2 separate regions of the Homo sapiens genome follow, and region 1 is linked to region 2. Evidence: fine-mapped expression QTL. A gene starts in region 2. The other region holds a variant in brackets. All regions are shown on one strand. Distances are between the middles of the regions.

Evidence for each region. PIP is the estimated chance that this variant, and not a neighbour inherited with it, causes the effect.
Region 1: its variant is the best candidate, but not a certain one, in a credible set for the expression of NOTCH1 in whole blood (TOPMed, PIP 0.51).

What each region holds. Positions count from the first base shown.
Region 1 is chr9:136,499,489-136,504,740 of GRCh38, forward strand. NOTCH1 (notch receptor 1) reads right to left here. Exons shown (of 34, transcript NM_017617.5): 26 at 5,185-5,252; 27 at 3,694-3,842; 28 at 2,784-3,000; 29 at 2,513-2,600; 30 at 2,260-2,425; 31 at 1,064-1,359. Among named protein-coding and RNA genes, the nearest start is that of MIR4673, 18 kb to the right of the region's middle. The variant C/T (reference allele first, on the strand shown) is at 3,010.
Region 2 is chr9:136,543,539-136,548,980 of GRCh38, forward strand. NOTCH1 (notch receptor 1) reads right to left here and starts at 2,510. Exons shown (of 34, transcript NM_017617.5): 1 at 2,188-2,510; 2 at 486-564. The coding sequence starts at 2,248. It overlaps MIR4674 (microRNA 4674), which reads right to left and starts at 2,721; the gene lies at 2,635-2,721. NALT1 (NOTCH1 associated lncRNA in T cell acute lymphoblastic leukemia 1) reads left to right here and starts at 4,304. Exons shown (of 3, transcript NR_121577.1): 1 at 4,304-4,563. RefSeq lists enhancers at 1,345-1,394, 3,367-4,278 and silencers at 1,625-1,674, 1,895-2,154, 2,175-2,734, 3,075-3,174.

The DNA of each region.
Region 1 (5,252 bases), 44 kb before region 2:
GATCCATCGTGACCACGTGTGGCCTCATTTAATCCTCACTGTGGTCCTAGCTGCCATGACCACCTACAAAACAGAGAGGTCAAGTCCCTGCCCCCAACGGCGGTTACAGCTGGCACTCAGGAAGCCGGGCTCACGGCCCTACAGCCGTCTCAGAACCGCCGAGCTAGTGTCCGGCTCTGCCCAGAGAGGGGGTGGGCAGCCCTTGTAATGCAGCCGGGTCTTGGCATCTGGCAGGAGGAATGGCCCCTGCTCACTGGCGGGTGCAAAAGGCAACTTGGCCTGATTCCTGCAAAGCACCTGGGAACTTCCACATCTGTGCAAAGAAGGCAGCTGAGAGAGGCACACACCAAACCCGCACGGGGCTCCCTTCCACGCTCTTTCTGCTCACCTACATTTATTTCTGCGAGATGACAATGTGTCACCTGAGCTAAGAAATCAGGAAATGAGAAGCTCTGTGGTAACTCCCCGGGCTGTGCCCATCTGAACCTGCTTGCTCCAGGGCCGCCTGGAGCCTGGGGACTCGCAGCAGGGGTGACTGCAAAGGCAGCCCCTGCCAGGGACACTCCCTGGAGACCCAGGCATCCAAATCCCTAAATCCATTCTTGCCACGAGCTCACCGGCAAGCTGAGCCCTAGGTCTGCAGGCACCGAGCGGCAGCCTCTAAACCCTGCTTCTCACTGCCACAGGCTACGCCGGCAGCCAAGGTTGAGGGAGGGGCGGGGCTGCGAGGGGCTGCAGCAGTGGAACCTGGACCTTGAGCAAGGCCCACAACCCTGATGGAGCCTGTTTTGCTGGGGGTGGGGAGGTGCTGCCTCACTCAGCAGATCCCCCAGGCCTCCTGCCAGACCCGCCTCTGCCTGACTTCCCTGGAGAACACAGATGGGCCCGACGCCCTCCCCCTCGCACCTCGCTGACTGCGAAGGTCCCAGGTGGAGGCACCAGTTGTCCCGGACTCAGCTGTGCTCGGGGTCAGGCTCCCAGGGCCACGTAAGCCTGGCCACTGCCCCAGACCACCAGGCGGCCCTGAGGAGGGCAGGTGGGCACACAGGCAGCCACTGCCTACCTGGAAGACACCTTGTGCGTCGGCAGACACAGCCGCATGCAGCGGGGTGCGGCCCATGTTGTCCTGGATGTTGGCATCTGCGCTGGCCTCCAGCAGGCGCTTGGCGGCATCAGAGCGTGAGTAGCGGGCGGCCAGGTGCAAGGCGGTCTCGCCCGTGCGGTCTGTCTGGTTGTGCAGGCTGGCGCCCTGGTAGATGAAGTCGGAGATGACGGCCGGCGCGTCCTCCTCTTCCTCGCTGTTGCCCGTCTCCAGGCCGCCCCCGCTGCAGGAGGCGATCATGAGCGGGGTGAAGCCATCTGCAGAGGCAGAGACGGGTGCTCAGTCTGGAGGGCCGGTCCCCAGCTGCAGCCCAGGGGGAGGGGGGCAGCAGCCCCAAGCTCAAGGGGCCACGGTGTGGATGCACCACCCAGCACTTGGTGGCCCCGTGCACACAGCCACCAAGGGGCAGCTGAAGTCCGCCTGGGCTGCTCAGTGGACAGAGCCGAATCCAGCTTAAACTCCTGGCGGGCAACTGCTTCCTGACCTGCCCAAGACCTGGCACCCAAAATCCACCCAGGAAAAAGAGGACCCCAGAAGCATGCAGTTAGAAAATTAATGCTTCAGCAGGATGCGGAGGCTCACGCTGTCATCCTAGCACTGGGGGAGGCCGAGGTGGGCGGATCACCTGAGGTCAGGAGTTCGAGACCAGCCTGGCCAACATGGTGAAACCCCATCGCTGCTAAAAATACAAAAATTAGCCAGGTGTGGTGGCAGGCGCCTGTAGTCCCAGCTACTGGGGAGGCTGAGGCAGGAGAATTGCTTGAACCCGAGAGGTGGAGGTTGCAGGGAGCCGAGATCGTGCCACTGCACTCCAGCCTGGGTGACGGAGCGAGACTCCATCTCAAAAACAAAAAAAAAAGAAAAAAAAAAAGAAAAAGAAAATCAACGCTTTCCATGTCTCAAGAAGGTTTCAGAAAAGAGTAATTTACAGGGACAGAGTGGCCCTGCGGTATCACCCCAGGAAGGGGTTGGTGGAAGAACAGGAGGACTCCAGGACCCCCCCACGTCTACTCTGAATGGGAAACACCCCAAGGATGAAAGCTCTCACCCCCAATTCTAAGTTTCCAGAGTATCAACTGTACCCCAGCCTCGGGGCTTAGGGGAGAGAGGCAGGTGGGCCACGGGGCTAGGGAAGCCCTGGCTGCTGGCACCCTTACCAGGCCCGCGGACATTGACGTCCATGCAGTCGGCGTCAACCTCACCCTGGGGCGGTGTGGGGGCCATGGCAGACATGCGCAGGTCAGCGGCATCCAGGTGCTGCTGAGTCCACTGCCGGTGGTCTGTCTGGTCGTCCAGGTCAGGCAGAACCACGGGCTCCTCGAACTACATAGAGGGAGTGAGCAGAGCCTGTCAGGGCAGCCCGGCAGCAGGTGCCCGGGAGCCCAGGAGCCCGGGAGCCTCGCGACTCACCCGGAACTTCTTGGTCTCCAGGTCCTCGTCCCCCCACTCATTCTGGTTGTCGTCCATGAGGGCACCGTCTGAAGCGTTCTTCAGGGGCCTGGGGGGTGAGGGGTCGAGAAGTGAGGCTGAGCGAGCTCCCTAGGAAGCCCCCAGAGACCCCTGGCCCGGGCCTGGCGTGGGAGGTGGGCCCTGGGTCGGGAGGGGCAGACTCCCGGTGAGGATGCTCGGCCAGGTCCCACCTCCCACCGGGGACCCAGAAGCAGGGGCGGCGTCCGCTCACTTGAGGCCCACGGAGTCCTCGCCGAGGGGCTCCCGCCGCTTCTTCTTGCTGGCCTCAGACACTTTGAAGCCCTCAGGGAACCAGAGCTGGCCATGCTGCCGCCGGCGCTTGCGGGACAGCAGCACCCCGCAGCCCACGAAGAACAGAAGCACAAAGGCGGCCGCCGCCACGTACATGAAGTGCAGCTGCGCCGGCGGGGGCGGCTCCACGGTCTCACCTGCGGGCA[C/T]GGGGGCCAGGGGCAGGTGCCCGGACATCAGGCAGCGGCTACGCAGCAGGCTGGTGGCCGGGGGGCGGCGGACTGGCTCCGCGTCCGGGCGCCTCCTCACCCACTCTCCTCCATCCCGCCCTCCAAAATAAGGTCATTTTCTACGCGATTAATCAGAATTGCAAACTATCGCTAAATTCTCTCCTGCACCAGCCGACTCTATCTGGAGACGGCTTTTACTTTTTTCTCCTTTAAGGAAGGAGGATTAGTCAACTTCAAATCGCTGCACTCGCACTGAGCTGTTAAGACAAAGGATTTAGAGGGATTTTCAAGATACAAACTTCAACACTTCACATGACACCGATCAATTCTTCTCTCTCTCTCTTTTTTTTTCTTTAAAAAAAGCCGTAATGATTTTGAAATAATACCCAACAAAGAAAATTCAGGAGGAAAGGGTGGGGAGAGAAGCAGGCACCCACTTTCCCGTGGCTGGACTCGTTCCCAGGTGGCTCCACCGGCAGCTGTGACCGCCGCAGGTGGGGGCGGAGTGCCATTCAGAAAATTCCAGAAAAGCCCTACCCCAACTCGGACGGCAACGCTCACACCCGTGGGTAGCAACTGGCACAAACAGCCAGCGTGTCTGGGGCACGGGGGGATGGCACCCCCTGCAGGCAGAGCCTGTTCCCGGGATGGGGCCACACTTACTCTGCACGGCCTCGATCTTGTAGGGGATGTTGAGGCTGCCCAGCGAGGCGAGCGCTCCCAGGAATGCGGCCACGTCGGTGGCACTCTGGAAGCACTGCGAGGAGGCCTGCACACACTGCCGGTTGTCAATCTCCAGGTAGACGATGGAGCTGGGCGGACAATCAGAGAGGGGCTGGGACCCGAGGCTTCCTCCTCCCCCGCCCACCGGCCAGGGATGCTGCCGCAGGACACTGAGGCCCATGACGCCACAGTCAGGACATGGTGAGGCAGCCTGGGGTGGTGGGAAGCCAGGTCTGACAGCAGCTACCCTGCAGGGGACTGGTGCCAGCCCCCCGACTCCGGCCAGTGCTGATCACGGCTCATCCCAGATACCCACCAACGCGCTCTCCCTGGCCCGCCCTGACACCCTCTCTGGCTCCTGCTGGTGCCACAGACACGTTTCCTCATCTCAGGACAGAGTATGTGCCAGGAGCCCAGTCCTCCCCCAGGAGCCATCCCCAGGCCCTGCAGGAAGCACAGGCGTGAGGTGGGGGTGGGTGCAGCGGTGGTGGGCTGTGTGGTGAGGCTGGCTGGGGGTGAGCTCTGCTCCCCAGGACTGGGTTCCCGTGAGCAGGATCCCATCCAGCCTGTGAGATGATGCTTCTGACCTCCAGGATTGCTCCAAGCCAGCAGAACTGACAGGCAAACCCACCAGGGTCAGGCACACGAAGGGCACAACCAACCTGGCTCCTGGGTCCAGCTGCCCCAGATCGAGTAGGCATGGGCGGGAGCCTTGTGGGGTGCCCCCTGCACTCAAGCTGCTCCTGCCTGTGTTCTCCCACCGTGGGACCCCCCACCCCCACCAGCTCCTCCTCCAACTGCAAGGCCCAGCAATGCCCCCTCCCAGGACCTCCACCTGCCTCCTCTCCAGCCCAAGCCAGGCAGACGCCATGACCAAGCGGCATTCTTGTCTGGGGTGGGGCTGTTCAGCCCTGTGGGAACCCCTGGAGAGCTGAGTGTTTTGTTTTTTACTTCTTTTAATACTTTTTTAAAAAAAACAGAGACAAGGTCTCCCTATGTTGCCCAGACTGGTCTCGAACTCCTGGGCTCAAGGGCTCCGCCTGCCTCAGCCTCCCAAAGTGCTGGGATTACAGGTGTGAGCCTCCTCGCCTGGCAGAGGGCTGAGTTTTAATCAGTGTAGTATCCAGTGCCTAAGGCACAGCTCAATCTCAAAATCACCTACTGGGCACAGGAGTGCCGCCTGTCCAGGGGAAGGCAGTGGCCCAGGAAAAGGGTGTGGCTGTGGGGTCAGGGCCCTGAGCTGGAATGCTGCCTCTACTCCTTGCCTGCGCAGGCCCTGAAGTCCCAGGTCCTCTCGGAACCTCCGTCTCTTTTACCATAAAGTGGGGAGAGTACTGCTTGCCATGGCGCCGGCCGTGAGGGGCAGGGAGGCCGTCGGGGAGGGCCCAGGAGAGTTGCGGGGATTGACCGTGGGCGCCGGGTCTCACTCACCCGCGGACGTCCATGGGGTCCAGCTCCCTCCGCCGCCGCCCACCCTCGCTGCCACCAGGGAGCAGCGA
Region 2 (5,442 bases):
AGAGGAGGCATCACTACCAGCCCAAGAGGCATCACCACCCACCTAGGAGGCATCACCCCCGAGAGGAGGCATCACCTGTGCCCAGGAGGCATCACCCGCCCAGAGGAGGCGCCCCAAGTTGGCAGGGTGGTGGGGGCTGGGCCTCTCAGTAAATGGTCCAGAGCTTCCCCTGGCAGATCAACTGTTTCTTGGGGACTTAAAGAAGAATTGGGGTACTGGGACTCCCACTTAGTGACCCCGGAGCCTGAGGTGGCCCACGGAGGAGTGCCCAAGCCCTCAGCAGCCAGACCAGCTCCACACGCAGCATAATTGCTGGTGATTAAGTAATTGCCAGACTTTGTCCAATAAAAGTCAGCACGTGACCGTGCCCAGACTCTGGGCCATCTCCAGAAGACAATGGCCTAGTGTTCTGTCCCCTGCGCGGCTGCAGAAGGCAGGGGCTCTGCCCTCGACAAAGCAACAGGTCCCGCAGGGGTGGTACTCACACGCAGGCCTCCGTGCCATTGGCCGCTTCACACTTCCCGCCATTCAGGCAGGTCTCACCGGGCTGGGAGCATCGCGGGCCTAGGCAGGGGCAGGAGAAGAGAGGTCAGTCTCACCCGCACCACCACCACCGAAGGCCCTGGTTACCCTGGGGGCGGGGACCTGCACCCAGCCAAGGGGCATCGTCCGCCCCCTACCCCGGACGCACTCTGCTCAGTATCATGGGTTGCTGGGGCACGGGTCCGCAGGAAGCCCCTCCATGAAACCAAAGGGGCGTCAACATTCTGCCCAGAGTTCTGTAGTCAGAAATGGGGGGAAGGGGAGCAGCAGGGAACACGTCCTGCTTGAAGCAGGGTGGGGTGGCCTGATGTGCCGCCTGGACGCAGTGGGGGAAAAGCAGAGACAAAGTGGGCTACTCTCCAAAGCGTTGCCCCCCACCCTGGAGGCTCACTGAGGAGTCTGGCAGGGCAGGGCCCCCCATCCAGCCGCCGAGATTGCCTCTGTTCAAACCCGTTCTGCAAGGGGGCAGAGCTGGACGGGGGGAGGGGGGGTGGCCACACTCAGCTCCCGCCCGTGGGAAAATGCGACAGCTGCTCGCCCGCTACCCCGCCCGCCAACAAAGCGCCGGCCTCCGCCTCAGAATCAGAGCGGCCCATTGTGGAGTCGGGGCCGCCTCCAGGGGCACCGGGACAGCACCCTGGGGACGCGGCCCCGCCTCCGCCGACACCCAATACCTGCCTCCGCGGGCGCGCATCTCCAGGGCAGCCCCCATACACCCACAGGAGGGGGATGAAGGTCCCCCATTCGGAAGGAATTCGACCCCATCTCGAGAAGGGATCAATTACTCAAGCCCCTCCCTCCCCATCTTACCGGGGCTGAGAAACGGGGGAGGGGGGTGTGACACAGAGCCGCACTTTCTGGAAGAGGACAGATAATTCTCGCCTCCAACTCTCGGAGAAAGAGTGGATTAATCACTCGATTCCCCAGAGACCCCGCTCGCTGTGCGGCGGGGAGAAATGTAAGAGCCCCCCACCCGCGTCCCGCTCTCCGCCCCCAAGCTTTCCAAACTTCAACTCCGCAAAGCAAAAGGAAAGTTCAGTCCCCCCGGGCGCGGCGGCTTCTTACGCAACCCCTCCCCCAAACTGAGAGCCGGGCTGGGGGGCACCGGCGGGCGGGGCGACCGGGAGCCCGGGGACCCAGCCCGGCCGCGCGGGTCAGTGAAGGCGAACGCGGCGCCGCAGAGCCCACACTCCGCGCCCCAACATCCGCCCCGGCGTGGGCCAGAGGCGAAGAAGAAAGAAGATAAATGGCCCGGAGAAGCAACAGGAAACCAAAACCGACTCTATTCAAATCGAAAAATAGTAGGCAGCCCGCCCGCCCGGCCGACCGGCGGCAAGCCCCACGCGCGGCGGGTGAAGGGCGGGCCCGGAGTAGGGCCTCCGGGGCCCCAGCACCCCACACCGGCCTCCTAACTCGGCTCCAGGCACGGGCGGCGCGAGTCCGCCTCCACGGGGGGATCGAGGGGGAAGGTCGGTCCTCCCTGATCCCGGGACTCCAGAACCCCACGCCCCGGGCCGCCCGCTTTTCCCTCTCCATGCTGGCCTCCCCGCCGCCCGCTCCCAGCCGTGGGGCGCGCGCGCCGGGCGCCGCCAAAGTTTCCAAAGGGCGCGGAAAGTGGGGGCTCGCGGGTGGGTGGGCGCCTACCTCGTGCGGCGAGCGCGGGCAGCAGCGCCAGGCAGAGCAGGGGCGCCAGGAGCGGCGGCATGCCTCCCCACCGGCTGCCCTCTGCGCCCGGGCGGCGGCCTCCTGCGCTGGCCGGCGGGGCTGGGACGCACACGCGCGGCGTACGGTCCCGGGGCGGCGGCGGACGGTCCCGCCCTCTCTTCCCCGGCTGGCTGGCGGCGCTGTGCTCTCGCAGGCCCCCGGGCCCGGCTCCGCGCCCGGCTCGTTCCTTCGCTGCGCTCGCGCCCGCGCCCGCGCCCCGCGCCCCGCGCCCTTGCGCTCCCTCCCGCGGCCGAGGCACTAGTGAGGCTCAGAGTCGAGGTGCGCTCCGCCCCCGCCGGCCCCGCCCCGCCCGGCCCCACCCCCGCCGGTCCCCCCGCCCCCTCCGCGGCCACCTCCTCCCGCACGCCCCGTCCGCCTTTGCGCCTCCCCGAGCTGAGCCGCGCGTCCCGAGCCCAGCCTCTCCGGGGAGGAGGGACCCGGCGGCGCGGCGTGGGTCGGGAGCGGGCGCCTGGGACTACTTCTCGTTTGAAAGTTTTCAGAGGCCAAAAGTTTGAGCCGGGGCTGCGGAAGGATCCGGCTCTGGCGGTTGCCGCGCTCGGCGACAACTGGCGACTGAAATTTGCATGTGAATAAGCGGAGGAGCCCGGGGCGGAATGGGGAGGGCGAGGCCGCGGACAGCCGTGTGCACCGTGCGCTGGGCCGGGCGGGGAGCAGCTGAGGCCACGTTGGGGGACCCCGGGCCCGGGGCAGGGCTCTGGGAGAGTGGCCTAGCCGTGTGTGCGCCCCTAGCCCAGCGGCTTCACTCCCTCCCGAGGGCCCCGTGGCCGCGGCTTTAGGCGTCCAGAGGATCGATCGCCGCCAGACATCCCTGGCCGTGATTGCCCGAGCACTTGACCGCGAGGGATGGGGGCGCCGCGGCCTCTGGGCAGGGGACTCCGGGCGCCCCGAGGGAGCAGCCGGGACCAGTGCCTCGCGGACGGATTGTGCCCCGCTCCCCCAAGGGGGACCCGCGTCGACACGCTCCTCGGTCACCGTCCTCCTCCTGCCCGGGCGCCGCCTGCCTAAGGTGGCCCCAGAAAGCACAAACGGGTCGGGCGGATCTGCCGCTGGCGCCGGCGCAGCCCTTCCCACGTGCTCCTTCCGGCTGATTTATTTCTCCACCACGATGCCAGGCACGGGCACCCTGTGCCAAGCCTGGTTAAGCGCCAGGAGTCCAAAATGCCTGCCATAGTCCCTGCGCAAAGTTCACGGCCTCGTGCCAGGGACAGACAGCGCCCCCTCCCCACCCCAACACAGGGTGGTGAGTGCGATGGCAGAAGGCGCGTGTCCCGGCGCCCCTCCTGGAGTAGGAGGGCTAAGCCTGCCCTGCGGGGAGACCGAAAGGCTGGGAGGGACCTAGGACTGTGGGGGCCTGGGGGGAGGGCTGCAGAAACCCCAGAGCATGGTGGCAGAGGCAGGCACAGAAAGCAGGACAAATCTCACACCTGACCCCAGCAAGCCTTTCCTGGCACACCTCTTGCCAAATGCTGAGCACTCTGGAAACAGCCAGTGCAGGCGGCCTGTCCCGCCCCTGTAGCTGCTGCTGGGAGCCTCCCTCGCCTGCGTCCTCCCAGAATCTGGCCTCACTTCTGCAGGCCTGGGGTAACATCTTGGGGTCAGCGCCCCAGGAGAGGAGGCGCCTGGAGGCAGCAGAGATGTTTATGTAACAGCAGCCAGGCAGCCTGGAGGAGCAGATTTTCCATAGAAGGAAGCGCGGGGCTGTGCAGCTCCCAGGCTGAGGACTCTGCCCACCACGACGTCCTCTGCTCCTGGTGGGTGGGGGTGGGGTGGGGCATAGGGAGGCCCGAAGGCCTCAGGCCTGGTGCTGATCGGGTGCGGGTGCGACTGCCTGTGTGCCTCCATTGGCATCTCTGCCTGTGGGCCCCAGGCCAGAAGTAATGGCCCATGTAGCCCAGGCCCGGGGGCCAGTCCTCAGCATTTTGCGGAGGGGCGGCCTGGGAGGGGAGGAGGGGATCCCTGGATAGGGGGTCTCCCCTGGTCTGCCCCAGCTGTGCCGACAGCACCTCCACCTTGGGCCTCCATCCTCTACCAGCAGAGAAGAGAGTGGCCCATTCGGTGTCCACCCGTCAGGCCACCCAGCAGCCAGGCACGCTCATAAGCCCGCGTTACGGATGGTGCGGCCGGGTGCACAGGCCCGAGGGAAGCACAGGCCTCGGCCTCCCAGCTCCCAACCCCTGCACCACCCACAGCCGGGAGTACCCCATGGACAGCTGTGGCCGAGGAGAAGCCAGGGATGAGGGGGATGGGCCTCACCTCCCCACCAGCCTGGGAAGGGGGTAGGCCCCTGGCAAGTAGGTGAGAAGCTTTTTCATTCACAAGTTGTCCGGGCTCCCCATTCCTCTTTGTCAGGCCAGCGGGTGTGGGCAGTCGGGGGAGGCTGGGGTCCTGACACAACAGGAGTACATCTGCTGGCCTAGGGCCTGGAGACCTTCTCCTACAGGTCGGGAGGCAGCCCTGGGCAGCGGGCATTGCGGGGACTAAAGAGAAACAAGAGCAGGTTGTGTGCAGGGCACCCCAGCCACTCCAGAAACCCAATGGGAGGGTGGGGGCTAGGACCCCAAGAAGCTGAATTGGGGTGCAGTGCCGCCAGGCCTCCCCTGTAGGAGTCACTTTGGGCTTCCTGTCCCAACTTGTGGTGGGAGCTGGGGCAAGGTTCCAGGGGTACCCCGAATGAATGGGGCTGTTCCCAAGCTGGCCAGGGAGCCTGGAAGCAGATGAGATGGGGCCGCAGAGCCTGGTTTGCGGAGGGGAGAGGCAGACGTGTCCTGCAGCCCTCTCTTCTTCAGAGGCCCCCTGCGGGTGCTGAGGGGAGAGTGGCTTAGGCGTTGCACCCCAGGAGACTGAACTGGGTCAGTTCCCCCTTGTTTGCTGCCAGAGAAATGGGGGTACCATTGTCAGGGTGAGCTAAGGAGGCCCTGCTGACATTGGCCCAACCAGGCCCCTCCTTTGCGGCTGCTGTGGGGACTTTCGAGAGCAGAGCACACCCCTAAGTGCGTGGAGAGGTAAGCACAGCTGGTGAGCACACGGGGACAGCGACGGAGCTCATGGAGACCCAGGTGACCTTAAAACACCCCAGGGCCGGCTCCGGCCCCAGAGAGATGTGGTCCGAGTAGAGGGGGGTCAGCAGTGACCTGGTGGGTGGGTGTATTTGAGGGGTGCCTGTGTTGAAAGCTC